Regions from separate parts of the Homo sapiens genome. Here region 1 is linked to region 2. The links come from fine-mapping of genetic effects on gene expression. A gene starts in region 2. The other region holds a variant in brackets. All regions are shown on one strand. Distances are from middle to middle.

Region 1 (16,374 bases), 73 kb before region 2:
GAATAATTAGGCAGTGTGTATTAAAAATAAAAACATACACTCTCTACTACCCAGCAATTATTCTTTTAAGAGAAATGCTTGCACAGAGTATGCAAAGAGGCTTGTACAAGAAACACTCTTTAGACTGGTGTTTATGATGGTGAAAAATTGAGACAACCTAAATATCCATTCATAGGGGAATGGCAAAATAAATGGGGGTATTTTGATATTATGTAACATGATGAAGCCATTAAAAGGAATGAGCCACAGGCTGGGTGCCGTGGCTCACGCCTGTAATCCCAGCACTTTGGGAGGCCGAGGCAGGTGGATCACGAGGTCAGGAGTTCGAGACCAGCCTGGCCAACATGGTGAAACCCTGTCTCTACTAATATACAAAAATTAGCTGGGCGTGGTGGTGGGTGCCTGTAATCCCAGCTACTCGGGAGGCTGAGGCAGGAGAATGGTGTGAACCCGGGAGGTGGAGGTTGCAGTGAGCCGAGATCGCACCATTGTACTCCGGCCTGGACAGGGCAAGACTCCATCTCGAAAAAAACAAAACAACAACAACAAAAAAGGAATGAGCCAGATCTATATGTATCAAAAATTCTAAGACAAATGCTTGAGTTGAAAAAACTAAGTTAGGCCGGGTGTGGTGGCTCACACCTGTAATCCCAGCACTTTGGGAGGCTGAGGCGGGTGGGTCACGAGGTCAGGAGATTGAGACCACCCTGGCTAACACAGTGAAACCCCGTCTCTACTAAAAATACAAAAAAAATTAGCTGGGCGTGGTGACGGGTGCCTGTAGTCCCAGCTACTTCGGAGGCTGAGGCAGAACCCAGGAGGTGGAGCTTGCAGTGAGCCAAGATCGCACCACTGCACTCCAGCCTGGGCAACAGAGTAAGACTCTGTCTCAAAAAAAAAAAAAAAAAAAAAAAAAGTTGCAGAACACATAGAGTGGTACCTTTTTTTAAACAATGAATTTAACTGTTACTCCCCGCTACCCCTCATACAATGGAGGCTACATCATGCTTGGAGCTTGTTGAAAAAAGACAGACGAGAGAAGATTACTTGTTCAAAACATTGAGCAGCCAAATACAGGAACTCCACCAAAGTAATGAATGAAAAAGAAAGCCTGGGCTGTGTTCTTTCCATTTCAGAATTGTATTTATTTCTCAATGGCAAGAGCTTTTGCTGTTATAAATTTATCGTGATTGGCTCTCACTAGCAATGACCAATAACTAAATAAAATAAATAATTGGCAAAAACGGAATTACAGCAGAAGATTTAGTTTTAAAGTTTTTTTTTTTTTTTTTTGAGACAGAGTCTTGCTCTGTTGCCTAGGCTGGAGTGCAGTCACGCCATCTCAGATCACTGCAACCTCCATCTCCCAAGTTCAAGCAATTCCACCGCCTGCCTCAGCCTCTGGAGTAGCTGGGGCTACAGGCATGAGCCACTACAGCCGGCTAATTTTCATATTTTTAGTAGAGACGGGGTTTGGCCATGTTGGCCAGGCTGGTCTTGAACTCCTGGCCTCAAGTGATTCACCCACCTCAGTCTCCCAAAGTGCTGGGATTACAGGCGTGAGCCGTGGAGCCGGGCCTCAAAGATCTTAACTGGCTTCATTTGCAATTCTAGAACTGGGCTTCATTCCAAAATGTTCTGGCCAGGCATGGTGGTGCACGCCTATAATCCCAGCACTTTGGGAGGCTGAGGCGGGAGGATCACTTGAATCCAGGAGTTCTAGACCAGTCTGGGCAACATAGGAAGACCCCTGTCTCTACCAAAAACAAAAAATGAGCTGGGTATGGTTGTGCATGCCTGTGGTGCAGGGTTTCTGTGGTCCCATCTACTCTGGAGGCTGAGGCAGTAGGCTGCAGTGGGCTGTGATCGTGTCACTGCACTCCAGTCTGAGTGACAGAGTGAGACTGTCTTAAAAAAAAAAAAAAAAGTTTTCCAACGAGCCCAGCAGAGGAGGTTGGTTTTGTAGACAGAGAAGGACTGAAAAAAGCAGAAGCAAAGAACAAAAAGCAGATTGGTTATTTCAAAGTTACTTTCCTTGAAAGATGAAAGATGAGAACAGGGAAACAGAACAACAGAGAAAAAACTGATTGCTTAACATCAGGTTACTTTAGGTTACTTTTTGTTGTCAGGATTAAAAGCAGAGGAAATTTCATTATTATGCTAAGTAAAACTAGCCTGTTTGGGAAATTTGGGTGTTATCTCTCTCCTGATTTCTCAGAAGGTCAGATAACAACTCGGTCTCAGTTTGGTAACTTGGAATTTAAGTATGAGGGACTCCATTTTGATATTTGGCCTGGTCTGTTGACCTAGTACAGGAGCTCAGTCAAAAACAAAATTATGAGTGCCTCAGAGTTATATGAGTGCCATCTCTACTAAAAATGGAAAAATTAGCCTGGCATGGTGGTGTCTGCCTGTAGTCCTAGCTACTCAGGAGGCTAGGTGAGAGGATCACCTGAGCCCAGGATGCGGAGGTTACAGTGCACTGACATCGCACCATACCACTGCACTGTAGCCTGGGCCACAGAATGAGACCCTGCCTCAAAAAAAAAAAAAAAACCAAAACCATGTATATATCTATATACAGATACATATATATACACATACACATACATATATGGATACATAATATATACATACACATATATATCCCTATGTTTTGTTTTAAATCTTCAGTGATTTAAAGCAAAACCTCAGGGGAAAAGAGGGTTGCACTGTTAGAAACTTCTGCTTTAAAAATGAGAACCAGAGATGAGGTAGCACACTCTGGTCACTCTGCCCATGGTGTGGAAGCAGGCAGCCGGAGTGGCGGAGTCCATGTGTATGAAAAACACAGGCAAGCATTAGCAGTTGGTTTCAGATGGATTCCAGACAGCAGGCTGTGAATGGACCAAAGAGGAAGCTGTGACCATGGGTAGGAAGTGCCTTGTTGAGGCCCTTGCTCTGCTGGGTCTGCTTTCTGGGCTTAAAACCCAACGGGTCCATATGCTGGTGTAATAGCAGGAGGAATCTTTTTGCAGAAGTCCCTTTGCATGAGGAGGAACCAGGGACTTTTCCAATATTTACCACATATTCTATGTAAGGTGTTACAATTACCACTCTTAGAAAGATCCATGTCTGCTTTCATTGTCTGCACCGCCAGGTGCCTCCTGGGGTGGAGAAAAATAGGGAACTATGTCTTTGCTGGGGGGTTGCTAGTTCTACTGAGGGGTGCTGGAGTTGTAGGTCTATAAGTGGAATTTAGCTTTAGGGTATAAATGAGCAAATTTGTCATCTTTCTAAATAAGACCTAGTTTAGGGATTACCCCAGAGGTTGGAGGTGGAGGAAGTAGTTGGCAACTTGCCCTGAAATCTAGAGGTTCACAATCTGCTGACATGGACTCCGCCACTCCAGCTCCCTGCTTCGACACCATGGGCAGAGTGACCAGAGTGTGCTACCTCATCTCTGGTTCTCATCTTTAAAGCAGAAGTTTCTAACAGTGCAACCCTCTTTCCTCTGAGGTTTTGCTTTAAACCACTGAAGATATGGGGAGTGAAAGCAGCAGGGGCTTTCTGATGTGGTCATTAATGCTAGTCAGAGGGAGGCCTTTAATCAGAAGGCTCAAGACAGATGGGTGGACCGGGCGCAGTGGTTCACACCTGTAATCTCAGCACTTTGGGAGGCCAGGGTGGCAGATCACCTGAACTCACTGTGGGGAAAAGAAAGAGAAATCAGACTGTTACTGTGTCTATGTAGAAAGAAGTAAACATAAGAGACTCCATTTTGTTCTGTACTAAGAAAAATTCTTCTGCCTTGAGATGCTGTTAATCTGTAACCCTACCCCCATCCCTGTGCTCGCAGAAACATGTGCTGTGTCGACTCAAGGTTTAATGGATTTAGGGCTATGCAGGATGTGCTTTGTTAAACAAATGCTTGAAGGCAGCATGCTTGTTAAAAGTCATCACCACTCCCTAATCTCAAGTACCCAGGGACACAAAACACTGTGGAAGGCCACAGGGACCTCTGCCTAGGAAAGCCAGGAATTGTCCAAGGTTTCTCCCCATGTGATAGTCTGAAATATGGCCTCATGGCAAGAGAAAGACCTGACCGTCCACCAGCCCGACACATGTAAAGGGTCTGTGCTGAGGAGGATTAGTAAAACAGGAAGGCCTCTTTGCAGTTGAGATAAGAGGAAGGCATCTGTCTCCTGCTCCTCCCTGGGCAATGGAATGTCTTGGTGTAAAACCCAGTTGTATATTCCATCTACTGAGATAGGAGAAAACCGCCTTAGGGCTGGAGATGAGACACGCTGGCGGCAATACTGCTCTTTAAGGCATTGAGATGTTTATGTATGTGCACATCAAAAGCACAGCACTTTTTTCTTAACCTTGTTTATGATACAGAGACATTTGTTCACATGTTTTCCTGCTGACCCTCTCCCCACTATTACCCTATTGTCCTGCCACATCCCCCTCTCTGAGATGGTAGAGATAATGATCAATAAATACTGAGGGAACTCAGAGACCGGAGCCGGCGCGCGTCCTCCTTATGCTGAGCGCCAGTCCCGTGGGCCCACTTTTCTTCTTCTATACTTTGTCTCTGTGTCTCTTTCTTTTCTCAAGTCTCTCGTTCCACCTGACGAGAAACGTTCACAGGTATGGAGGGGCAGGCCACCCCTTCACTCACAAGTTTGAGACCAGCCTGCTCAACATGGTGAAACCCCGTCTCTACTAAAAATACAAAAATTAGCCGAGCATAGTGGTGCACACCTGTAGTCCCAGCTACTTGGGAGGCTGAGGTAGGAGAATTTCTTGAATCTGGGAGGCGGAGGCTGTAGTGAGCTGAGATTGCACCACTGTACTCCAGCCTGGGCGACAGAGTAAGAATCTGTCTATTTAAAAAAAAAAGGCAGATGCGGGGGCATCTGCCCCAGAAGAAAGTGATTAGGAGGCTTACCCCCGCCCCCTTGCCTATGGTCACCTAGCTTCCTTGAAAATAATGTAATCGGCATCTTTGTGTATGTACATTTTTAATGTTATCAGACTTTCTTAGTGAAATGCAACCAAACCAAGCACATATTTACTTTAAAATTCCATTGAAAACCAGGTATTTAAATTGATTTTAAGAACCTTGTTAAGGAAATCAGCCTGGCTAAGGAAAATTAGTACTGCATTTTAAAAGAGTTAAGCAGATCTAACAAGACTCTAAGCTACTCTTGGACAGCTCTGCTTAGTGTCTGAGCCACCTTCCCTCAAGAACTTTGTTGAAGAGTGTTGAACGACCTTTTTGGAAGCCTTCTACTTGCAACATGAATTAAACAGCAGTTACGATCACTGGGATTAATAATGTGATGTCTGGAGCAGGTAACCCGGAATTATTAATATTATCTCTCTGTCATCTTTTTCTTTTCTTTTTGGAGGGGAGGGGGACAGGATGTCACTCTGTCACCCAGGCTAGGGTGCAGTGATGTGATCATATCTCACTGTAACCTTGAACTTCTGGGCTCAAGTGATCCTTCTGCCTCAGCCTCCAGAGTAGCTGGGACTATAGGCATGTGCCACCACACCCAGCTACTTTTTAAACTTTTTGTAGAAATGGAGTCTCGCTCTGCTGCCCAGGCTGGTCTCAAACTCCTGGGTTCAAGTGAGCCTCCCACCTTGGCCTCCCAGAGCACTGGGATTACAGGCATGAGCCAGTGTCCAGTCTTGTCATTGTTTTCCTTTTTCTTTCTTTTTTTTCTTCAGAGAGGGGGGTCTCACTTTGTTGCCAGGCTGGACTCTCAAACTTCTGGGCTCAAGTGATCCTCCCACCTCAGCCTCCTGAGTAGCTGTGACCACTGGCACGCGCCACTACACCCACCTCTCTGCCATCTTACACGAGAGAGCATGTCTTAGGCTGAGTGCAGTGGCTCATGCCTGTAATCCCAGCACTTTGGGAGGCCGAGGCAGGCAGATCACCTGAGGTCGCGAGTTTGAGACCAGCTTGACCAACACGGAGAAACCCCATCTCTACTAAAAGTACAAAATTAGCCGGGTGTGGTGGCGCCTGCTTGTAATCCCAGCTACTGGGGAGGTTGAGGCAGGAGAATCACTTGAATCTGGGAGGCGGGGGTTGCGGTGAGCCAAGACGGTGCCACTGCACTCCAGCCTGGGCAACAAGAGCGAAACTCCATCTTAAAAAAAAAAAAAGAGAGCACGTCTTGAGCCACCGCTTGCTACTAAGTTTCTGGGACTTGAGAAGACAGGAGAGAGCAATATTTATTTCTCAATGTCCAGAGGGAAGTTACAAAATTTCAGTCGTATGATAAATGCTGAAGTACTTAATGCAATAAAGTCCTTCCCTATCAGAAGCTACACACACCCATGGTGGGGATAAGTTTCTGCTGAGGATTAATAGTGAAAACAGGTCTCCCTTTCAGGGTAGGAACACAGAACCATGCCTCATGTCTCCCCGTAGCTTTTAAGAGGAAGCACAATGGTTCAGAAACGCCCTTCCTTTCACCCTCACATGCAAAATGACCACTTGTTGCTTGAGAGTGTGGCTCACCTCATTGTCCTGGTGATTAATCTCGCTGATGTTCGACTGTTGCAACAGGACCGTGAGGAGCCTGTAAGGAAAAAATAGGAGAAATGGCTCAAAATAACAGGCAGTCACGGTGCTCTTGGAATCGGTATAAAAACATGACCTTAGAAAAACCGTCAGTTGAAAGACTCCAAATGAAGATGAGGGCCCTTTCCGTTTCTCTGGGAAAAAGATCCACAGAAAAGAAGCAAGAGTGTGATAGGTTAGAAGACACCTGTGTGGAGGGCTACTGTCTGCCTCTCCCACCCTCTCTTCATCTCAGCACTCCCGAGGGGCACAAGGGGATGGAGAAACTTTAGGCTCATTGTGTTCACCAGGCCTCTGTCTCCTAGCCATGCCCTTTAAGATCCAAAATCATGTAGCAATTATTATTATGATTTTTTTCTTTGAGATGGAGTCTCGCTCTGTTGCCCAGGCTCGAGTGCAGTGGCACGAACTTGGCTCACTGCAAGCTCCGCCTCCCGGATTAGCACCATCCTCCTGCCTCAGCCTCCCGAGTAGCTGGGACTACAGGCGCCCCGCACCACGCCCTGCTAATTTTTTCTATTTTTTAGTAGAGACGGGGTTTCACCGTGTTAGCCAGGATGGTCTGGATCTCCTGACCTCGTGGTCCGCCCGCCTAAGCCTCCCAAAGTGCTGGGATTACAAGTGTGAGCCACCGTGCCCGGCCACTTATTCTTTATTCTTTATACACACATGCCTAAGCACAAGATTCACTTTATAGAAACTTACAGAGTGCTTTCGACCTGCTTCACTCCTAGCTGCATATGTCATGCCTTTTTAATGCATAGATTATACCAGGAGGTTGTCAGTATTTGCAAGTTTGCTCATTCTTTGTAAAATACACACATGCCTAAGCACAAGATGACAGTAATCAGTGTAAAACAGCTATCAATGATTCTCAGATTCAGGCTCTTACCTGACTTGGATCTCCTGCTCAGTTGACTGAAGTCAACGCTCCATCTGGGAGAGGGGGGCAGCCGAGCATAGTGGAGAGGGGCCCGGGCTCTGCAGCCAGATGGCTTGGGTTTACATCCCAGCCCTGCCACTGATGAGCTCTGTGACCTCAGGCAAGTTACTTACCTTCTTCCTGCCTAAACTTCCTCATCTGTGAGATAGGAGTGATAAAAACTACCTA[T/C]CACACAGCTCAGTGTGAGGATTAAATGAGTTAATATGCATACAACATATAGAGCATGCCTGGAACATGCTGTTATTTCTAGAGTGCTTAACCCCAGAAGTTTGGACCCTGGCTCCATCTCAGAATTGCCTGGAGAGATTTTTTTTTTTTTTAAACCACAAATACCTGGACTCTGTACTCAGGGTTTCTAACTCAGTAGGTCTGGAGAAGCCCAGCTTCTACTGTTTAAAAAAAGCTATTCAGGAAATTATGGTAAACAGCCAGGCTTGGAAACAATTGAGAAAGGTGCTGAAAGAATTAATCAATGGATACTCATCAAGATGATAAAGAATAGTGTATGGGCAGTCAATGGAGGAAATTCAGAAATTGCTTTTGGAAGAATTATTTGTAAAATGAAATTGTTTAGTCTCTTCTCCAATCAAATCTTTATCGTCTCTCAGATTGGAAGACATCTAAAGCCCTAAGTATTAAATTGTTACTTGCAATAGAAGAAAAGAAAGATCCACTAATCATATTGCCTTAGCAGTAAATGTAATACACAGAGAGCTTAAATAGAGATGGACTTCTGGTTATTTGCGGTGGAGGTGAAATAACCAGGAAGCCTGTGGTTTCAATCTTGTTGTATCATAGTCTTTTGGGGAGCCAGGATAATGCTGAGGTTTAATTCTGACCTCACTACTGCACGATCTGAGTTTCTGTATCTTCATGTATATCAGAGGGGTAGTAACGCAGTGGTGTAAAGGATTGAGTGATCCAACAGGCAGAAAGACCCTGGGTCACATACACTAAAGGGACAATGGCTATGACTGCATACAGTACATCTCTTTTATGCTCTCTGAATTCTAGATGTAGCCTTTGGTAGGAAGACATATAAAAATAATTGCATTTTGGGTCACACAATTTTTATCTTTGCAATTATTTCACCACTGGATATATTTCCCTGTGGCTGCTTTGTGAGTGGGGGCAGGGCTTACCTTGTGACTGTGCTTCTCCTTTCTTTCTTTCCTTTCTGTCTTCTCTGGCTCATTATTGGCCATTGTTTACTCTCTAGGGCCCATTTGGTCTGAGGGACTGGGGGAGGAGGGAAGGGCAAGGCAGGAGGTCAGCTGTGGTCCAGTGTGGTTATCCTTGGTTACTCCTGAGCAGACAGAGATTATCTGTAGCCAGACAGGATCTTCTGGGGCTCTAACCAGATTAGAATGGGGGTAGGGAGAGCAGGACCTCTTGTCATATCCTGGGTGGCCTCCCAAGGTTGTGGGATGAACCGTGTGCCTAGATAGTTCTCTATTTGGCTTTCAAAGCCATTCTCTTCTTTATACTGCCCTGCTCTGAGGCTGACTTCTAGGGACCGCATCAACCAGGCTCCCTTGCCCTTGGCTTCCTATCGGGTTTTGCCGATGGGGGAACTGGCAGGAGGAGGGAGAGAAGCCAGCTCCCTTTCTGGCAATAATTGTATTTCTCTACCAAAGGCCTCAGTTCTTGCCAGGTGGCCCCTCTCCTACAGCTAAGCTACCACTGCAGCTCTCAGAAGTTTCCAGTAACAGCCCCTTCCTTGCCCCTTTAGGTCTAGAAAGTGATAACATTTTCCTGCTCTTTTGGGGAAAGTGGGGGTGGGGTAGGGGGTTAGAACATCAACCATCATCTCTTGTTGGTCAATTTTTGGTCAATTTTTTTTTTTTTTGAGACAAGCTCTCACTCTGTCACCCAGGCTGGAGTGCAGTGGCACAATCACAGTTCACTGCAACCTGGACTTCCTGGGCTGAAGCGATTCATCCTCCTGCCTCAGTCTTCAGAGTAGTTTGCACTACAGGTGTGCACCATCACGCCCAACTAATTTTTTAGTGTTTTTAGTAGAGATGGGGTTTCACTATATTGCCCAGGCTGGTCTTGAACTCCTGAACTCAAACGATCCTCAGCCGCCCGAAGTGCTGGGATTACAGGCGTGAATCACCCTATCCAGCCTTGTTGGTCAAGTTTAAATAGTCTTTCCCTAGACTTTCTCCAGTTGCCACCCTTTAATTCCCATGTCTTCTCTGTCATGGCTGTGACTGATATGTGATGATCTATGTGGCCCAACTCCACTTGACTGTGAAGTCTCTGAGATCCATTGATCGTCAAAGCTGGACACAAATAGACAGATCAAGGCCCTCTCCTGCATTCTTGCCCTCACTCTGGCTCTGGCTGTCTCTCATATGTTGTGAGAACAAAGAACCTGAGGCCCTTCCTGGCTTGCCAAGACCACCATACAGTGGCTCAGTGATACAGCCTGAACCAGAAACCAGGTGTCTCATTGCCAGCCTGGGACTTCCTTGCTGTTCTGTGGTATGGAGGTGACCTGCGAGATACTTGTCCAGCATCTATGTCAATTCCTAGATGATTTGCAGCCCTCTGTTGTGCTTCCCCCGAGCTCTCATTTTGTGTTACCATGGCCCAGGAGTCATTCTACACCCCCATCAGCCAAGTTCAGACTCCCTCCTGTCCTCGGATCTCTGAGTAAGTGATGTAAGACCCATCTCATCTCAGGTGCCAGTACAGCAGGCTTGGACCCCAGCAAGAGCAGTCCCAGACAGGTGGTGTGTTGAGTCATAAGAGCACTGATGCTGGGGCCAGACTGCCACTGTTAGAATCCCTGCTCCATACCAACCAGCCAGTGACCTTGGGCGAGCTCCCAGTGCCTACATTTTCTTATCCATAAAATGCAGAGAATAATACCTACTTCCTCAGGATCTGTCATGACTTTGACTCCATGCACACAAAGCACTTGGAATAGCCCTTACATGCCATAATAAAGTTTTATATGGCCAGGTGCGCTGGCTCACGCCTGCCTGTAATCCCAGCACTTTGGGAGACCAAGGTGGGCAGATCACCTGAAGTCAAGAGTTTGAGACCAGCCTGGCTAACATGGTGAAACCCCGTCTGTAATAGAAATAGAAAAATTAGCCAGGCATGATGGTGGGCACCTGTAATTCCAGCTACTAGGGAGGCTGAGGTCGGAGAATTGCTTCAATCTGGGAGGTGGAGGTTGCAGTGAGCCGAGATTATGCCACTGCACTCTAGCCTGGGCAACAGAGCTTGAGACTCTGTCTCAAAACAAACAAAAAACAAACAAAAAATTCTATAAAATGATTAATTTTTTAATAGCTCCTACCTTCTATTTTCTGGGTCTCCACTGATTATCATTAGGTGAATGGTGGGTCTCAGAGAAGGATCAGCTAGAAGCATCCTGGGGACAACTCATCCCTATGAGCTTTCCTGTTTCGCTGGCCCCTCTGAATGTTCCCAGCCCTGGAGCTGGCCAGCGCAGTGACAGGTGGGAAAAAATGGTCCCACAACCAGCCGTCTCCCCTTCCTGTCCCTGGAGCTGCCTGTATTAGAGTGTGCTGCAGTGAGACAAACACTGCAGGTCAGAACACACCACCTGGTAACTAGAGAACAGGACCCCAAGGAAATGATTTTCTTCCTCCCTTGGGCTGCAGTCAAGAGTGATGAAAAGAGGCAGAGTGGCTGGCACTCTGACAGGGAGGAAAAAAAGTCTGCCAGTAGCCATGGAGACCATGAAAAAGACCTTCAGAGAGCCCCGTGGCTGCTTTCAGAGAAAATTGCTGCTTGCCTTCCAACACTAGCATGTGCAGCGTTGTACAAACACAACTCTGTTCTCTTTGGAGCTTTGTTTTAATGATCATGCCCCCTCTTTCACACCAGCGCCCTCTGAATGTCCCAGCCAAGGAAGCAAGAAAAGCCTTGGGGAGCTGAAAGGGGGAAAACTTGGACCTGCTGAGAAGCAGAGGGTTCAAAGTAGGAAGGGGAATCATGAGAGGAAACCTGTGCATCTTTGCTTTTGTAAACCCAGTGTGCCTTCACGTTCATGATTATAAATCACTTATCCCTGCATCAGCCTCCATCCCCATTGAGCGGGTGTTTAGTTAAGGATGCAGATTCATACTGTTTGGTTTGTTCAGGAGTTGTTTCCATCTGAGCACTAAAATCCCTCTGGAGGCAAAGGACTAATTGAAGCGTCCCTTAGCTTGTTTATAAGCAGCTTCGGTTTGAGGCTTCTCTCTGAATAACCTCCAGTGAGCACCAAATAGAAGGAGCTTGCTGTTTGGAAATCTAAGTGTTAGCAGATTTTAAATCAGTATAAAAACCTGAGCACAAGGGCACTATGTGGCCTGTACATACTGTTTATGATTAGGGGAAAATGCAGACATATGCCAGTTTACAAAGGTGTGCATAGATCCACACAAACAACACACCCCAACAACCATTGCAGTAAACCTGTGTGCCCGGCAGTAGGATGTAGGACTGCATTTACATGGGCCTGTGTCTGTGCACACATTTTTGTGGACCTGAGTGTGCTGAGGTGAAGAAGGCCAGGATGAGCACCAGTGGGGTGGCAGTAGTAGTGTTTCATTCCTTAGCTTCTTATAATGTTTATGGTGTTTCTTTCTATCTTCCATCATCATCATCATTGATGACCATCAACATTATCATATCATCACGCCATCATCATCACCATGTTCACTTTCTGAACACGGACAATGTACTAGGTGCTGAGTTCAGCGTTTCCACACATTTTCTCCTTTACTTCTGCCTACTTCCCTGTGAAGTAAGCAGGAATAATATATTTAATAGTACTTACTTCGCCAGGTGTGGTGGCTCACTCTTGTAATCCCAGCACTTTGGGAGGCTGAGGTGGGCGGATCACCTGAGGTTGGGAGTTCGAGACCAGCCTGACCAACATGGAGAAACCCCATCTCTACTAAAAATACAAAATTTTCCGGGCATGGTGGTGCGTGTCTGTAATCCCAGCTACTCGGGAGGCTGAGGCAGGAGAATTGCTTGAACCCAGGAGGCGCAGTTTGTGGTAAGCCAAGATTACGCCTTTACGCTCCAGCCTGGGCAACAAGAGTGAAACTCTGTCTCAAAAAAAAAAATAGTACTTATTTCAAGGGGAAGCTGAGCCTTGACATGTTAACTTGCCCAAGAGAATAAGAGCTGGAGCCAGATTTAAACTCAGTCAGTCTGACTCATACTCATGAGCTGGCACTCCTGGCCACCCTTCAGGGATCTTTCTTTTCTTTTTCTTTCTTTCTTTCTTTCTTTCTTTCTTTCTTTCTTTCTTTCTTTCTTTCTTTCTTTCTTTCTTTCTTCTTTCCTTCCTTCCTTCCTTCCTTCCTTCCTTCCTTCCTTCCTTCTCTCTCTCTCTCTCTCTTTCTTTCTTTCTTTCTCTCTATCTTTCTCTCTTTCTTTCCTTCCTTCCTTCCTTCCTTCCTTCGGGTCTTGTGCTGTCGCCCAGGTTGGATTACAGTGGCACGATCATAGCTCACCGCAGCCTCGAACTCCTGGGCTCAAGCAATCTTCCAGTCTCAGCCTCCTGAATAGGTAGGACTACAGGAGCACACCACTATGCCTGGCTACTTTTTTAAAAAAATCATTTTTAGAAATGAGGCCTCATTATGTTGCCTAAGCTGGTCTTGAACTCCTGGCCTCAAGTTATCCTCCTGCCTCTGTCTCCCAAAGCACTAGGATTACAGGTGTGAGCCACAATGCCTGGCCCCTTCAGGGATTTTAGATTGTTTTCAGACAAATATGGTGAAATAAGATAACGAGTGAAGAAACAAGACAAAGAGAAAACACGGGCAGGAAAAAAAAAGACATGATCTATAGTCCTACATGTATGCCAGAGGTGGGACACAAATTGAGTTTTGAATTTTCTAAATATATAAAGAAAGAAACATGCTCTGAAGTCACAGTGTCTGTATAGTAAAATTAAAAAAAATGATTTATCAGGAGCAGCATAGCAATTCCTTCTTCAGTAGAAATATTTCTTGTGGTTTCTCATATAGAATTTTTCGGAGGTGCTAATGAATCATGAGCCAGGAAGTTTTGTAAGACTGTTTCTTATAAGGCTTCTCAACGGAGACCAAGGGCTTAATGTCAAAATATGGCCATTAAAATAAATTCGGTTTCTACTTTAAACATTTAATGCAGATGTATCAAACTCTGCCATGGACCTAAAATTTCTCAAACAACTATAAAATATGTAATTTTAACAATGTAATTCCATAGGGAATCCTTTAGGGTGGACTAGTTTCCAATATTCTGTAGGTAACCAAACTACAGTCATGCATCATTTAATGATGGGAATACTTTCTGAGAAATGTGTCGTTTGGCGATTTCATCATTGTGTGGACATCATAGAGTGTATTACACAAACCTAGATGGTAGAGCGTACTACACACCTATGCTATATGGTAGAGCCTATTGCTTCTAGGCTACAAATATGCACAGCATGTGACTGTACTAGACACTGTAGGCAATTGTAACACAGTGGTAAGTATTTATGTATCTAAACATAGAAAAGGTACAGTAAAAATATGATATAATCATCTTATGGGACCATCATTACACATGCAGTCTGCCATTAACTGAAATGTCATTATGCAGCGTGTGACTCTATTTGATTTGCTGTATGGTTGTTAGGACTTAACCCAATTAATCTTTGGAGAGCATTTACCAGAAATAACAATTTTGGTTTTGGAATAGTCAATCTTAACTTTTTGGGATTATTAGTTAAAGCAGCTAGCATTGCCATAACTAAAGCAGAATTTTATCTTTCAGAATCAGTTAAGGGCTTTTTGGACAATATAACTAACTACGTCATCTGCACACAGAAGGATGTTTATTTTTCTTATTTCAACTCATCCAAGGGTGGTGGCTGGGCTGTTAGGTACAGTTTCAAGAGAGGGGAAGCCACAACTCTCTGCTCTCCTAGTTATAGCAACTTAATGTAGATCCTCAAGAGTCGAGGAGTACTGATAAGCATAATAAGAAATAGAAACACAAGTCCACAAAGAGGAAGTACACTTGGGTTGATTTTCAATTTATTATTGCAGTGATTTCAGAGAATGAACCTAATCAACTGATCCAATTGACATTGAATGTAATTTTGACTGACAAGGCTTAGTTTACCCCTTAGGTGCAATGGGTTAAGAACAGAGACAGAGAGCTTTTCACCAAAATCCATGTTCCCCTTTCTTGGATTGGAGGCATTGTTGGGAGGTAGATTCCTGGCTAGAAACTATATTCCCCAGAGCACCTTATAACCAGATGTGGTTGTATGACTAGTCCTTATTGATGGAATATGAGCAGAAATGAATTGTGTCATTTGCAGGCTGAGGTTTTAAAGAACTGAGTGTGGCTTCTCTATAGGGTAGTCCCTGCTTAATCTGCGGTTTCGCTTTCCATTATTTCAGTTACCCACAGTTCACTGTGGTTCAAAAACATTCAATGAAAAATTCCAGAAATAAACAATTCATGTTTTAAATTGTGCGGCATTCTGAGTAGAATGATGAAATCTGCCGCTAACTACACTCCGCTCTCATTAGTCACTTAGGAGACAGCTCGGTTAACAAATCAGCTGTCCCCGTATCGCAGCACTGTGTTCACATTACTCTTATTTTACTTAGCAGTGGCCCCAAAGTGCAAGAGTAGTGATACTGGCATATTGTTATAATTGTTCTATTTTATTATTATTGTTGTTAATCTCTTACTGCGCCTAATTTGTACGCTAAATTTTATAGGTATGTATGTAGAGGAAAAAAACATAGCATATATGGACTTTGGTACTATCTGAGGTTTCAGACATCGATGTGGGTCTTGGAACATATCCCCTCCAGGGTGAGGGGAGACTACTGTTCTCCTCTTTCCCCATCTGCAGGCTGAATGAAGGGCATTCTGTGCTCTTAGGGGATGAAGGTGCTACAGAATGGAAGAAGCTTGGGTCCCTGAATTGCCATGTGGCAGGGAGCCACCTACCACCCCCCTACATTGGATGGTTACATGTCTGATAAACTTTTTGTTTTTTTGAGACGAAGTCTCACTTTGTCGCCCAGCCTGGAGTGCAGTGGTGCAAACTCAGCTCACTGCAACCTCCGCCTCCTGGGTTCAAGTGATTCTCCTGCTTCAGCCTCCTGAGTAGCTGGGCTTACAGGCACTCACCACCACATCTGGCTAATTTTTGTATTTTTAGTACAGGTGGGGTTTTGCCATGTTGACCAGGCTGGTCTTGAACTCCTCACCTCAGGTTATCCATCTGCCTCGGCCTCCCAAAGTGCTGGGATTACAGGTGTGAGCCATGGCACCTGGCCAGAAATAATTTTTATTGTGTTAAAACACTGAAGCTTTGGATTTTATGTGTTACAACAGCCATAATTACCATAACTTAAATGGGCTCTTTTAATCTTCCAGAATCAGTTAATAGGTTTTGAAATGACCACTCTGAGTGAGGCAAGTAAAAGCAATTACGTAGAGTAAATTAAGACAGAAGAAACAGAAAAGGTACATTTTAAAGTTATTTTCTAAAGACCACTCTTGGGAAAACAGTATGATTTTGTGACTAAGCATTTTTGTGGGGTCATTCTTTTTTTTTTTTTTCCTAATTCATCAAGAGGGAGTCATCCCCTCACGATGTCTATTGATTGTTAACTGTCTGGGTTTGCTGTTCCTTTTCTAAACATCCTTGTTTTGTTGGGCTTTGGGTAAATCCTAGTTTTCTGTTATTTCTGGACATAGTCCAATATAATAAGAGTCAAGCCTTGGGAATAGTCCTGGAATTTCCCAGGACCTTTTATTTTACTGTAAAAGAGATTGAAGTAAAGAAATCTTGTTATTCCTC
Region 2 (16,374 bases):
AAATGCAAATCAAAACCACAATGAGATACCATCTCACACCAGTTAGAATGGCAATCATTAACAAGTCAGGAAACAACAGGTGCTGGAGAGGATGTGGAGAAACAGGAACACTTTTACACTGTTGGTGGGACTGTAAACTAGTTCAACCATTGTGGAAGACAGTGTGGTGATTTGTCAAGGATCTAGAACTAGAAATACCATTTGACCCAGCCATCCCATTACTGGGTATATACCCAAAGGATTATAAATCATGCTGATATAAAGACACATGCACATGTATGTTTATTGCAGCACTATTCACAATAGCAAAGACTTGGAACCAACCCAAATGTCCATCGATGATAGACTGGATTAAGAAAATGTGGCATGTATACACCATGGAATACTATGCAGCCATAAAAAAGGATGAGTTCATGTCCTTTGTAAGGACATGGATGAAGCTGGAAGCCATCATTCTGAGCAAACTATCGCAAGGACAGAAAACCAAACACCACATGTTCTCACTCATAGGTGAGAACTGAACATTGAGAACACTTGGACACAGGGTGGGGAACACCACACACCCGGGCCTGTTGTGGGGTAGGGGGAGGGGGGAGGGATAGCATTAGGAGATATACCTAATGTAAATGACGAGTTAATGGGTGCAGCATACCAATATGGCACATGTATACATATGTAACAAACCTACACACTGTGCATATGTACCCTAGAACTTAAAGTATAAAAGAAAACAAAAAACAAACAAAAAAACCCCTGCACATCTGTGCGTGGGAACTTTAAAAATCCACAACACAATGGAATAAGAGCTTGATTGTGAAAATAAATGTTTCATTAATTTGATTTTCCATTGATGTCTTTTTTTTTTTTTATTAAACCTTATTGCTGGCCAAGGAAAAGACATTCTGCAGTAGAAAGAACACCGGTTTTGAAGTGAAACAGATTTAGCTTGGAATCCTAGCTTTGCTGTTTTACTTTGTGACAACATTGGGTAGGTCATAACCTTTTTGAATTTCCTCATCGATAAAAGGGGGTCATATGTGAAGCTGATATGAGGATTATATGAGCTAGTCTGTGTGCAGTCCTTAGGACAGAGCCTGGATCTGCTAAATGCTCCATAAACATTCGCTCTTGTCAATATGTATCCATGTAAAGCCCTGCACAGAGTCTGCACCAAACAGATGCTCCCCGCTTCCCCCACCTCTTACTTGCCAATTTTTCTCCTAGCTTAAATGAGAATGGATTTTACCAAAAACCGAGTCACAGTGTTGCGTGCTTTCTGGGATCTGACCTCTTCTCACTCCCTGCAATGGGTTGAATGGTGGCCCTAAAGACATGTTCTAACCTCTAATCCTGGAACCTGTGGCTATTCCCTTACATGGCAAGAGAGTGACTATGACCTTATATCTGAAAGGATGTGACTAAGCCAAGGACTTTGAGAGGAGGAGTTTATCCTGGATTATCTGGGTGGTCCCTAAATGCAATCACATGCATCCTTAAAGGAGAGGCAGAGGAACTTTGAAACAGGTACACAGAGGAGCGATGCACACAGACGAGGCCAAGTGAAGATGGTGGCAGAGACCAGAGTGATGAGGCCACAGCAGCCAAGGCTGGAAGGACCAGGGAAGATTCTTTCCTAAAGGTTCTAGGAGAAGGCCCCCAGCTGACTTTTTTTTTTTTTTTTGAGGTGGAGTCTTACTCTGTCACCCAGGCTGGAGTGCAGTGGCGCGATCTTGGCTCACTGCAACCTCCGCCTCCTGAGTTCAAGCAATTCTTGTGCCTCAGCCTCCCAAGTAGCTGGGACTACAGGCGCATGACACCACATCCAGCTAATTTTTTATTTTTACTAGAGACAGGGTTTCACCATGTTGGCCAGGCTGGTCTCAAACTGTTGATCCTAGGTGATCTGCCCACCTTGGCTTCCCAAGCTGCTGGGATTACAGGCATGAGCCACTGCACCCGGCCTGCTGCTGACATCTTGATTTCAGACTTTTGGGCACCAGAACTGTGAGAGGATAAATTTCTGTTGTTTTAAGCTACCCAGCTTGTGATAATTGGTTACAGCAGCACAGAGACAATCACACACTCTATTAATCTGGGCTAGAAGACAAAGCCCTTCCTCTCTTTTTCCAGCAACTCGACAAGAGAAACGACCTGTGCAAGAGGGTGGACCACAGCCCACACAGGTGTGTGCAAACACACCGCTCAGCCTCGTCAGGCATATTTCCTCAGAGACCCTGGCACGGCCAGGCCCTCCTCACCCCCAACAATACAGAAGAGTGGGTGAGGCCCTGAGGCTACCCATCCCCCCACCTCCCGCCGACCCCTCGCCTGTTTTTTTTTTTTTTTTTCCCTGTTTTCTCTCTCAGGTTTGGGATTCTTTCAGGCGCAGCAAAACTTTTCTTTCCACAAGTCGTGACAAAGCTTACAATGCAAGTATCTTCAGTTACATAATATGTAGACTTTAGCAGGAACCTCTGTGTTCTGTAGTAAATGGCTTTACTACAGGTCGCTTCCTGCGTGTGTGGGCTTTGAGAGGGAACACAGCTGGAAAGAACACGTGGGACCAGAAGAGATGTTGCTATGGTGAAAGCTGAAGGCACAAAAGAGAGTCGAGAGTTCTGAAGACCCAGGCTTCCTCCCTCACAGTTTTGCAAAGCCAGCCAGAGACCATGCCCCTGGCCAGTCAAATGATCTGATCGTTGGGCCTTCCAGCAGCTCTGTGAATATGTAATATAGTATTATCCACATTTACAGTCAAGGAGACAGAAGCCAGTGGAGATCAACTAGTTTGTGCAAGTTCATGTAACTAGGAAGAGGGCAGAGACAGGACTTGAGCAAATGACCATCTGTCACCAAGACCCTGGCATGCCTCGTTGCCTCTAGCTAAAGAGAAATATAGGAAAATGCATGTGGAGGGGTTCAGTCTTACCAAACCCACCTCGTTGGAGCCCTGAAGGTCCTTCTGCATCATATTCTTCCACCATTCTCTGGGCAGCCATGAGCCAGAGTCAGTGCTAGGCCAGGGATTGGCCATGTGCAGGAAGCTTCCTATTGCCCTGTTGTATGGATGGAGAACACCTGGGCCTCAGTCCCCTCTGTTGCTATTTAGTGGGGTGTTGTTATTATTATTAGGAAGGACCCAACTTTGAACCTCTCTGTGCTTTAGTTCCCTCATCTGAAATGTGGAAGAGGGGTAGGTTGGATGACTGGTTCTGCATCTTTGCTGTCCATGAGAACTTCCCAAGGAGTGTTGGTTGGGCCAACCACTGCAGTTAAACTGGAATCTCCCTGGGTGGGATGCAAGCATCAGCATTTTCAGAATTTCTTCAGATGATTCTTTTTTCTTTTTTTTGAGACAGAGTCTTGCTCTGTCGCCAGGTTGGAGTGCAGTGGCCTGATCTCAGCTCACCGCAACCTCCACCTCCCAGGTTCAAGCGATTTCCTGCCTCAGCCTCCCGAGTAGCTGGGACTACAGGCGTGTGTCACCATGCCCAGCTAATTTTTGTATTTTCAGTAGAGACAGGCTTTCACCCTGTTGGCCAGGATGGTCTCGATCTCTTGACCTTGGGATCTGCCCACCTCGGCCTCCCAAAGCACTGGGATTACAGGCGTGAGCCTTGCGCCCGGCCCAGATGATTCTTAAGTACAGCCAATGTGAGAACCAACAGGTTACTTGATTGCTAAGATTCTTCCAGCTGCAATGTCTTCTGTCCCCATCTGCATGTAAAGACAGTACTGCTAGGGTTCACTTATCCAGACAGTAACGATTCATGAAAAACCCTCAACTAAAGCCCCATGTTCAACTTTTCCCGAGAAAGTCACCTCCCTTTGGTTTGTCCAACAATATAGTATTTAAAATCTGTATAATGGTCTCAACCCTCATGGTCTTTCATGCTTTTAAGAAAGAGGAAGGATTAATGGGTAATAAAACTATTCAGGAATGGCTTAGTTAATTATTATTCTAGGTCTTGCTATAAATGGTATCCTAGGGTTCTGAAAAAAATAATTAATGTAATTTAGTCATCCAGCACTAAGCCCTCATTTGATCTGAGGACTGCTACATTCAGGCTGAAGGTAGAGAGATGAGTAGTCTTTTGCACTTCAGAAACTCCCAGTCCAAGGTGATAATAACAACAGCAATAATAATAACAGCTGCAGCCAAAATGGGAAAATACTTATTGAATATCAGGCATTGCTAACAGGTGCTTTTTATATGTTATTATTTTAGATCCTCACAACAACCCTGCTAGGTAAGCATCATTTCCTTCATTGTATTCCTGGGGAAACTAAGGCCCAGAGAGGTTAGGTAACTTGCCAAGGTCACACAGCTAAGAAGTAGATGATCTGCCATTCTGATCTACGTCTATAAGATTTAAAATCCCATGCTCTTTCCATCATATGATAAAACCTCTAGAAAGAGAGAAAGGATTGAGAAATAGAGATAAAGATGGCAGGGAGAGGGTTAACTTCCATGGGAGAGAATCCGGCCCAGGTGGAGGAATTGCTGTGAATTGCTCACATGAAAGGTGTTAAAAGAAAATCAGTCTTGTAATTCTGTATCTTAACTATGTTTGGGGCTCAATCCTGTTAGAAGGTACAGCACTGGAACATGTAAATTCATTATGAAGAGCTAGTTCTTCTTCAGTCAGTCCCAGCTCCCTCCAATTAGTCTTCAAAAATAAACCCATTGTATGTTTCGTGGCTTAGCAACATCATTTTTCAGCCAGTGTGAGCTCTTTGGTTCTTAGCAGATTTTCACTTTTACTGACTGCCATCAGTGATATAAAATGTACCAGGAGGAGAGGATGGTGGTGGGCACAGCTGTGACAACGCCTTTCTCTATGCTGTTCAGATCCAAACACGGTATGAGCCGGCACGTTCTGAAGGCGCGCACACACACACACACACACACACACACACACACACACACACACATACACATACACAAACACTATTCCAAATGAGCTAAGACCTGGAGAACACACTATACACATATATACATTAGCTAACTCAGGAATCTAAATATAAATTTATTTTTGGAGAAACCCCCTGGGCTAAAATAATTCACCCACAAAGCCAGATGTAGCTTGAGGGGTAATAAACATGCTATGGCCTAGAGCAGGAAAAGGGAAAAAAGAATGAAGCAGTACATTTTCTTAATGAGGCTTTTTCAAACCACCATTTCATGTTGTAGCCAAAACAGATAAAATCACCAAAGGAACTTAGGATCTTGAAGAATATTCAGAGACTGTAGAAAGTGGTTTAAATAATAGATATTTAAGAAAAGATTCTAAAAAATATTTATTATGTTTATAAAATGGAAATTTCATGTTTATACTAAAAAAAGATTTACTATTACACATAAGTATTACACGAAGATGTATATAAACACATTGCATATGCAAAATGTATACACATAGACCACATGGCCAAATATGTGATATTATAAGGATAAGTTGATCTCACAGCAACATTTTGATGTGGAAAATTACCTCCACTCCAGAAATTATAAGTAAGGAAGATATACCCTGGCATTGCAAATAATAGCATAGGGATATGTCATTACACAACCTTGGATGAGATAACATATCAACCCGACATAAATACAGGCAACATCTATTCCTGAAAGGAATAAAAAAATGCTTACGAAGATACAGCAATGAGATACTGGGCTAATCGAATGACAAAAAAAATGTGATGTGTTCTTACATTGCTTACCCTAATTTTTAAAAAAGATTTGGAAAAAACAGAATAAAGATGACACTATCTGAAATAGTTGGTGTGCTTGAAATCCAGTTTTTAAAATTTGAAGGTAGGAATACTTCAACAAGATCATAAGCTTATACAACAGATCATAAGCTTATTTTTCTGTTTCAGATGCTTATCAAACTAGAAGTGAACATTTTGAACAGGTTTGTTTTCTAGGTGAAATCCTCTTTCCACATCCTACATAGCAAATACTCATGCACACCCACGCACATGAACACACACACACACACACACACACTTCTCTTTCTCTCCTTACAACTGTAAATCCATACCATGAGACTAAGGATGCTAACAACCAAAGAATGTGTTAAAGCAGCATTTTACCTCTTTGCTGATCAAACACAGAAGGGGTGCTGAAATCCATGGTAGCCTGTCTCATCATTTACCATCAGAATGGCAAAAAGCATCCAGGTCTCTAGAGAGGAGAAAACACCATCTCAAACCTTACTGTCAACATGACAGTCAGAGGCAGCATCGTTTGCCAAGACCTCTGTTTCAGGATTAAATGTGCATCAGAGCTGCAGGTTGTTGTCAAGGCAAGGTGATGAAAATAGGTAAATGCTATTCCTGTAAATACCTGCTAGGAAAAGAGTTACTCTATGGCCTCATTCATCAGCTGTACATGGGCATAATACACCCTCCACCCCCAAATCAATAAACACAATTACTCAAACTCCAAAAAGATAGTAAAATTGTATGGGCCACCTGCCTTGGATCTGGGCTGGAAAAACACAGCAGATCACGGAGCTTCAGCAGCTGGAATGTCGCTTTACACCAACAGAAATCTGAATGGGTGAGTGAGGATTCACAGGGCCAGACAGAGCATGTGCAAAGCTGCCAATGCAGTTCGCATTCGGCTGTGCTTTTGGCGGAGTGAGAACTGCATTTGGGTCATGTGAGCAGAGAGTGCCATCTCAATGGAATAGGATGTAAATATTGTAGCAGGAGGCTGCTGGCCATGTGCTGTGTGGAGTAATTATCCATGTTGGCAGTCTTCTTCACTCCCCTTTCAGCTCCGTTCTCCAATTGACAGGGAGGATGGGGAAAGGCGTCATTTGAAAGGTGACATTTCAAGGCTCGAGTGTCTGTGGTGATAAAATTAAAACAGTCTGCTGTCACAAGGGTGTTTATTGTAGCATTACATGTAGTAAAACCTGAAAAATCACCCGAATGTACCTCATTCAGGGAGCAGCTAAGTAAATGGTAGTAAATTCGTACTCTAGATTTAAAAATCTGACATAAATAAATCTGTGTATTTATCTGGTGACATGTCACTAATCTATTGTTAAATGAAATAAACAAGTTATATATTTCATTTGTTCGTGTTTTAATAAAACCGGAAACCACTCACTGTATACATTATTTTTATATATTCAGACGAACACTGAAAAAGATGTAGAAAGATACGTACTAAACTGCTAATATTGGTTCCCTCAGGCCACTGTGATTAGAGTAGGAGATTTCTAACTTGTTCTGTATCAATCTCTGTATTTTTGGCTTGTTAATAACCAGTATCTATTATCTTGTATTTGTAATAAAAATATGATATACTAAATTCAAACAAAGTTCTATATTCTAGGCACAACCAGATTTTTGGATAAGTCAAATAGCCATATAGTAGATGCTTGTTGAATCTAATAATAAACACCAGCTTCCTTTGCCCTTGGATAGGATGATTCTGAGGCATGGTGTTTTACTCCGTTTGCCATTTCCCTTTCAGGATTAAACTCCTTCAGGGTTAAACTCCACTGCCACCTGTGAGAATAGGTCTAATAACGTTCTTTTTATGGGCTGCTGTTCCCTCCCTGTATTACTTTCCCACGTTCCTACTGATATTTCCTGCACTTCTCAATAAGTTACTTGCATTGGAATCATTGTCTCAGGGTCTGCTTTTACGGAAACCCAAATTAAAATATTTCTCCACAAGAGGGTACATTTCATAAGGGCAGGGTCTTTGTCTACTCTTTCTTTGTCTGCTTTGTCCACTCCATGTCCTTACAGCCTAGCACAGAGAGGGGCACAAAGGAGGTGCTCAGTACATTTCAGTGCATGAGTGAAACTTCACTGAAGAACTTTCCTTGCTCAAGCTGACAACCTGCTCACTGACATTGTAACATTGGAACCCAATTAACCATCCTTCATGGGGTAAGAACTTTCTGACAAGAACTTCTGTAGTCCTTGAAATTTTCTAGTCTAAACAAGAAACCATGTACTTGAGGATTGGTTCTAGGGTTTCTGGAATTGGCTCTCAAATCTGATTAAATTTAAGGATTCTAATAGCTTTATTTCTAGGAGTAAAGAGAGCATTGATAGTCCATGGTGTGAAGTGGTAATAGAGATATGCAAAAAGCTGCACTGAATATTCCTAATTAATCACTGGACACAACAGGCAAGGAGTTGGGTGACTGTGTAGATGATACCCTCAAACATTTTTGGAAACTTAATGAATATGGCTGGTTGCTCCTAATGTCACTGGACAAAGTGATGAAAGAAAAGGATTAGCTCACGGATTCTAATTCCCAGCTCAGGTGCCATATAGATGACCTGGAGGTGTGTATGTGTACCCTGAAGGAGAGTCTTACCTCCTGTAGCCATGAGGCTGAGGATGCTGCAATCAAATGCAGGCTCTCATGCTGCAGCTGCCTGAATTACAATGCAAATTGAACTCCTGAATTACAGCGCAAGTCAAACTCCCAGCTTCACAGGATGTCTGCTGTTAAAGTGAGGACATTGATTGGGAAAGTAGAGGATACTGTAAATTGGATAGAGACATGTGAGAAGACCCTGATGAAGCTGGGGGACACTGAGCATCTAAACTCTGAGGAGTCTTCTTTGCCAGTGGAAGTGGACTCCCAATCCCTAGTAGAAGCAGCCTCCCCATCTCCAGTGGTAGCAGCCTTTTCACCTCAGTCTGAGAAGATTGACTCTGAATTGCCTGAGGAAACTGTATTGGCCTTCCTTGAGGCAGCTGCCGTGCACAACAATGCTGATTCTCTTCAGGAGCCACCACCATTGTTCCTCTGCTTCTAGACCTATAACTAGACTCAAGTCCCAGCAGCCCCTAAAGGTGAGGTGCAAAGTGTGACCCATGAAGTACATTATATTCCAAAATAATTACTTGAACTTCCTAAAAATCCAGGAAACATGGGAATGGATACTAAGGGAGTGAAATAATGGTGAAAGGAACATAAAGTTAGATCAGGTTGAATTTATTGATATTAACTAATTAAGCAGAAATTCTGCATTTACTGTTGCAGCTCAGGCAGTTATAAAGTGTTCTAACAGTCAGGTTAGTGGGTTGAAACATGGACCAAAAAGTGGCCCAGGGTGAGCAAATTGGAAATACTGGACTTGCCTTGGTTTAATGTGGAAGAGATTCAAAGGCTTAGGGAGATTGGAATGTCAGAGTGGATTTGTCATTTAAGAACTACTCACCCACACTGGAGGGTCTAGAAGACATACTTTTAGCAGTACCGTGAGGAATAGGAATAAATCTGTGAGGGGAACCCCAGCATCTTTGAAGAGTTCTGTGATTGCTCTTCTCTGCAGACAGTGAGAACTGCAGTCATTGAATTGGGAAACCTAAATGCAGTGGGAATAATTGGATCCTAGGATGGTAGGGCTAAGTGGTGGTACTCAACTGCCAAAGACAAGGTGGGCATAGTTACTGTTGTGGAAAAAAAATAGAATCATGGCACCCCAAATTCACTATGCCACAGGGAAATTTAAGCTTGAGAACTGAGTCATGCAAAAAGCTGTCTTCTTTCGTTCCCAAACAGATAGCTGTATTTTCACATGCTGACTTTATCATATGTAGAGTTACTGGGCATGAGAGAAATGTGTAATTGCTTTTTCCCCTATTCCCTCTTTTTTTTTTTTTTTTTTTTTTTTTTTTGAGACGGAGTCTTGCTCTGTTGCCCAGGCTGGAGTGCAGTGGTGTGATCTCGGCTCACTGCAATCTCTGCTTCCCAGGTTCAAGCAATTCTCCTGCCTCAGCCTCCCGAGTAACTGGGATTACAGGCCCCCACCACCACACCCGGCTAATTTTTGTATTTTTAGTAGAGACAGGGTTTCACCGTATTGGCCAGGCTGGTCTCAAACTCCTGACCTCAGGTGATCTGCCCACCTCAGCCTCCCAAAGTGCTGGGATTATAGGCATGAGCCACCACGCCCGGCCAACTCTATTCCCTCTTTCCACATGTAATATGTAGACTCACTGAGTGCTAATCAGAGCCTCACAAAAAGGTGACCACTTGTTTCATTGCCTATCCTCTCTCCTTTATTTCCCTCCTCTTCTGCTTGCTCTGTCCTCTTTAAATACTGAAGTTCCTAAAACTCTCTTTGGAAAAAGCCCAGGTCACAGATCCCACTGTGACCTGTGTTTCTTTTTCCTGGTTGCATCCTCAACCTTGGCAAAATAAACCTGCAGTCAATTAAGATCTACCTCAGTCACTCTTTGGTTTATGCTGTAATGGACAGCAGAGGTCCAAGCAGCAATCAGAGTTGTCTGAGTCATAGAAACCTATGGCATTGGCTAGTTGATCATGGCGTTTCTCAAAGTAAAATAGATAGGAAGCCTATGAAATTCTTAATCTGCATAAGCAGAAAAGCTCTAGGTTAAGTGACAAAAGTCTAACACGAATCATAAAAACAGAGAATCATGATCCCTCAATTAATTCCCAGAATTGAGCCTGTTTACAAACCTAAAACCCCTTAAATGAAGGGGAGGCTGGAGCCCTTGAGGAAAGGCCCTGGTACCCTACTAAATGTTTATACTGTTAATCTTTCTCTCAGTTTTCCCCAAAAGAGATGTATGGCCTTTTTACTAGGGTAACTGTGCATTGAGAAAAGAGAAATAATCAGACCTCTCAGGGCTTACTGGACATTGGCTCTGAGCTGACACTAATTTCAGGAGACTCAAAATATCACTGTGGCCTGCCAGTCAGAGGAGGGACTTTTGAAGGTCATGCGGTCAATGGGATTTCAGCTCAGATCCATCTCACAGTGGGTCTAATGGGCCCCAATGCCATCCTGTGGTCATTTCCCCAGTTCTGGATGCACAATTAGAATAGACATACTTAGCAGCTCACAGAATCTCTACATTGGTTCCCTGAATCGTGGAGTAAGGGCTATTATGGTGGGAAAGGCCAAGTGGAAGCCACTAGAACTGTGTCTACCTAGGAAAATACTAAACCAAAAGCAATACGACATTTCTGGGGGAACTGTAGAGGTCATAAAGGACCTGAAGGATGCAGGGGTGGTGATTCCCACCACATCTCCATTCAACTCTCCAATATGCTTTCCAATTTGGCAGAAGACAGGTGGATCTTCGAGAATAACAGTGGATTATAGTAAGCTTAACCAGGTGGCAACTCCAATTGCAGCTGTTGTTCAGATATGGTTTTATTCCTTGAGCAAATTAAAACACTCTCTGGTACATAGTATGCAGTTACTGCTCTGGCAAATGCTTTTTCCTCTCAATACCTATTAGTAAAGACCACCAGAAACAGTTTATTTCAGGTGACAAGACAACATTCTTGATGAACATAAATCCAAAAATCCTCAACAAAATACTAGCAAACTGAATCTAGTAGCACATTAAAAAGTTAATCCACCATAATCAAGTGGGTTTTATCCCTAGCATGCAAGGTTGATTCAACATATGCCAATCAATAAATATGATTCATCACATACACAGACCTAAAAACAAAAGCCGCATGATCATCTTACTAGATCAGAAAAGAATTTCAATAATATTCAACATCCCTTCATGTTTAAAACCCTAAACAAACTAGGCATTGAAGGAATATATCTCAAAATAATAAGAGCCATCTATGACAAACTCACAGCCAAAAACATACTGAATGGGCAACCCAGTATAGGCAGGACTGTACTGAATTCTGGAAGCATTCCCTCTGAGAATTGGAACAAGACAAAGATTCCTACTCTCACCACTCCTATTCAACATAGTACTGGAAGTCCTAGACTGAGCAATCAGGCAAGAGAAAGAAATAAAAGGCATCCAAACAGGAAAAGAGGAAGTCAAACTATCTATGTTTGCAGATGATATGATTTTATACCTAGAAAACCTCATATTCTCTCTGCCCCAAAGCTCCTACATCTGGTAAACAACTTCAGCAAAGTTTCAGGATACAAGATCAATGTACAAAAATTAGTAGCATTTCTATATACCAACAACATCCAAGCTGAGTGCCAAAACAAGAACGCAATCCCATTCACAACAGCCATACACATACACACACACATACATATACACACACACAGACACACACATACGCAATACCTAGGAATACAGCTAACCAGGGAGGTGAAAGAGCTCTATAATGAGAATTATCTTTCAAACAGATTCTTTTATTATTCTTTTCTGAAAGAAATCAGAGATGATACAAACAAATGAAAAAACATTCCATGCTTGTGGATAAGAAGGAATCAATATTGTTAAAATGGCCATACTGCCCAAACCAATTTACAGATTGAATGGTATGCCTATCAACTTATCAATGACATTTTTCACAGAATTAGAGAAAAATTAGAAAAATTTTTAGAATTAGAAAAAAACGATTCTAAAATTTATATGAAACCAAAAGAGCCTGAATAGCCAAAGCAATCCTAAGCAAAAACAACAAAGCTGAAGGCGTCACATTACCCAACTTCAAACTATACTACAAGGTTACAGTAACCAAAACAGCATGGTACTGGTACCAAAACAGACACATAGACCAATGGAACAGAATAGAGAGCCCACAAATAATGCTGCACACCTACAACCATCTGATCTTCAACAAAGTTGACAAAAACAAGGAATGGAGAAAGGACTCCCTGTTCAATAAATGGTGGTGGGATAACTGGCTAGCAATGTGCAGAAGATTGGAACTGGACCCCTTCCTTACACCATGTACAAAAATCAACTCAAGATGGATTAAAGACTTAAAAGTAAAACTTAAAACTATAAAAAATCCTGGAAGATAACCTAGGAAATAACATTCTGGACATAGGCCCTGACAAATATGCCTATGCCTATGTTGTCTTTCATGACAAAGACACCAAAGCAATTGACAAATGGTACCTAATTAAATGAAAGAGCTCCTGCATAGCAAAAGAAACTATCAACAGAGTAAACAGACGACCTACAGAATGGGAGAAAATGTTTGCAAATTATGCATCTGACAAAGGTCTAATATCCAGAATCTAAAAGCAACTTAAACAAATTTATAAACAAGAAAAAATCCCATTAAAAAATGGGCAAAGGACATGAACAGACACATTTTTTTTTTTTCCAAGACAAGGTCTCACTTTGTCACCCAGGCTAGAGCACAATGGTGCAATCTAAACTTACTATAGCCTCCACCTCCCAGGTTCAAGCAATCCTTCTGCCTCAGCCCCAAAAGTAGCTGGGACTCCGGGTGCATGCCATCATGTCTGGCTAACTTTTTTGTACTGTTTTGTAGAGATGAGGTTTCACCATATTGGCCAGGCCGGTCTTGAACTTCTGAGCTCAAGCAATCTGCCCACCTCAGCCTCCCAAAGTGCTAGGATTACAGGAGTGAGACACTGTGCTCGGACATGAATAGACACTTTTAAAGAGACATACCCGTAACCAATAAGCATATGAAAAAATGCTCAACATCACTAATCGTTAGAGAAATGCAAATCAAAAACCACAATTAGACCCATCTCCCATCAGTCAGAGTGGCTATTACTAAAAAGTCAAAAAGTAACAGATGCTGGAGAGGTTGTGGAGAAAAGAGAACACTTATATACTATTGGTGGGAATGTAAATTAATGCAGCCACTGTGGAAAGTAGTTTGGAGATTTCTCAAATAAATTAAAACAGAACTACTATTTGATGCATCCATCAAGTGGAAAGTTTCCTTAATTTCAATTTTTCAGTCAGATTTGTGTAAGCTGATCCAATTGAGATGTCTATGTTATTGGTTATTGTTTCTGCTGTTAATCGTCATTTCTCTTCAATTAAGGTATAAACAAGTTGAATTTTTTCCTTGCAAATTGAAATGGATGATCTACTGTTTCAGGCTTCATTTCCAAAGTGATCTCGTCCTTTCTTAAAATGAGTTATTCATTGATAAACGACTGATTTCTTTGGGAGCGTTGAGCTCATAAACTTTTCATAAAAGATCAACGATTTCACCATTCTTCCACTCAAACTTCCCCATAAATATAATATTTGTTCTTGTTTCAATTTTAGCAGGATTGAGCTCATAAACTTTTCATAAAGGATCAATGATTTCACCATTCTTCACTCAAGCTTGACTATAAATTTAACATTTGTTTTTGTTTTTAGCAGAATTCATGTTGCTCTGATAGAGGCTCTTTTCAAACTGAAATCTTAAGCTTCTTAGTGCTTTCAACTAGATCTTGTTCAGACATGTTAGTATGAGTCTATTTCAGATATGTTAGTATGAGTTTATTTTGGTGTAAAAAACTTGAAATTCATACATAGTTTTTTCATAAAACATATTTTCTATGAACTATTTGAAGACCCCTCATACGTAGATGTACAAATAACATACTGATATGGTTAGGCTTTGTGTACCCACCCAAATCTCACCTTGAATTGTAATCCTCATAATCCCTACAGGTCAAGGGAGAGACCAGGTGGAGGTAATTGGATAATGGAGGTGGCTTCCCCCATGCTGTTCTTGTGATAGAGAGTGAGTTCTCACGAGATCGGATGGTTTTATAAGGGGCTCTTCCTCCTTTGATCAGCACTTCTCCTTCCTGCCACCTTGTGAAGAAGGTGCCTTGCTTCCCCTTTGCCTTCTACCTTGATTGTAAGTTTTCTGAGGCCACCCCAGCTGTGCTGAACTGCGAGTCAATTAAACTCCTTTCCTTTATAAATTACCCAGTCTCAGGCAGTTTTTTACAGCAGTGTGAAAATGGACTAATACAATAAATTGGTACTGCAGAGAGTGGAGAGCTGCTATAAAGATACCAAAAAATGTGGAAGTGACTTTGGAACTGGATAATAGGTGGAGGTTGGAACAGTTTGAAGGGCTCAGAAGAAGACAGGAAAACGTGGGAAAGTTTGGAACTTCCTAGAGACTTGTTGAATAGCTTTGACCAAAATGCTGATAGTGATATGGGCAATGAAGTCCAGGCTGAGGTATCTTAGGTGGAGATGAGGAACTTGTTGGGAACTGGAATAAAGGTGACTCTTGCTATGCTTTAGCAAAGAGACTAATGGCATTTTGCCCTTGACCTAGAGATCTCTGGAACTTTAAACTTGAGAGAGATGATTTAGGGTATCTGGTGGAAGAAATGTTTTGGCAGCAAAGCATTCAAGAGATTATGTGGGTGCTTTTAAAAGCATTCAGTTTTATGCATTCAAAAAGAGATGGTTTGGATTGGAACTTATGTTTAAAAGGGAAGCAGAGCATACAAGTTAGGAAAATTTGCAGCCTGATGATGCACTAGAAAAGAAAAACCCATTTTCCAGCCAGATGTGGTGGCTCATGGTTGTAATCCTAGAGCTTTGAAAGACCGAGGCAGATGGATCACTTGAAGTCTGGAGTTCGAGACCAGCATAACCAACATGGTGAAACCCTGTCTCTACTAAAAATACAAAAATTAGCCAGGTGTGGTGGTACATGCCTGTAATGCCAGCTATTTGGGAGGCTGAGGCAGGAGAATCACTTGAACCCTGAAGGCAGAGGTTGCAGTGAGCTGAGATCATGCCACTGCACTACAGCCTGGGGGACAGAGTGAGAGTCTGTCTCAAAAACAAAAAACAAAAAACAAAACAAAACAAAACAAAAAAAAAAAGAAAAAGAAAAACCCAAATTTGCAGAAGTAATGAGGAACCAAATGTTAATTGCTAAGACAATGGGGAAAATGTCTTCAGGGCATGTCAGAGGTCTTCACAGCAGCCCCTCCTATCACAGGCCTGGAGATCTAGGAGGAAAAAATGGTTTTTGGGGCCAGGACAGGGCCTTGCTGCTTTGTGCAGTCTCAGGGCTTTGTGCCCTGTGTCCTAGCCATGGCTAAAAGGAGCCAATGTACAGCTCAGGCTATTGCTTCAGAGGGTGCAAGCCTTGGCAGCTTCCAAGTGGCGTTGCACCTGCAGGTGCACAGAAGTCAAGGATTGAGGTTTGGGAACCTCCACCTAGATTTCAAAGAATGTATGGAAATATCTGGATGCCTAGGCAGAAGTTGCGTGCAGAGACAGAGCTCTCATGGAGAACCTCTGCTAGGGCAATGAAGAAGGGAAATGTAGGGTCAGAGCTCCCACACAGAGTCCCCACTGGGGCACTGCCTAGTGGAGCTGAGAGAAGATGGCCACCATCCTCCAGACCCCAGAATGATAGATTCACTGCCAGCTTGCACCACGTGCCTGGAAAAGCCACAAACACTCAATGCCAGTCCATGAAAGCAGGCAGGAGGGGGACTGTAACCTGTAAAGCCACAGGGGTAGAGCTGCCCATGGCCATGGGAGCCCACCTCTTGCATCAGCATGACCTGGATGTGAGACATGGAGTCAAAGATCATTTTGGAAATTTAAGGTTTAATTACTGCCCTGCTGGATTTCAGACTTGCACGGGGCCTGTAATCCCTTTGTTTTGGCCA

The links. PIP is the estimated chance that this variant, and not a neighbour inherited with it, causes the effect.
Region 1: its variant is fine-mapped to the expression of ANKRD55 in whole blood (TOPMed, PIP above 0.99).

What each region holds. Positions count from the first base shown.
Region 1 is chr5:56,153,310-56,169,683 of GRCh38, forward strand. ANKRD55 (ankyrin repeat domain 55) reads right to left here. Exons shown (of 12, transcript NM_024669.3): 6 at 6,524-6,584. Among named protein-coding and RNA genes, the nearest start is that of ANKRD55, 72 kb to the right of the region's middle. RefSeq lists a silencer at 3,409-3,578 and enhancers at 3,569-4,364, 6,755-7,550. The variant T/C (reference allele first, on the strand shown) is at 7,698.
Region 2 is chr5:56,226,763-56,243,136 of GRCh38, forward strand. ANKRD55 (ankyrin repeat domain 55) reads right to left here and starts at 6,568. Exons shown (of 12, transcript NM_024669.3): 1 at 6,479-6,568; 2 at 6,094-6,184. The coding sequence starts at 6,151. RefSeq lists an enhancer at 13,394-14,593.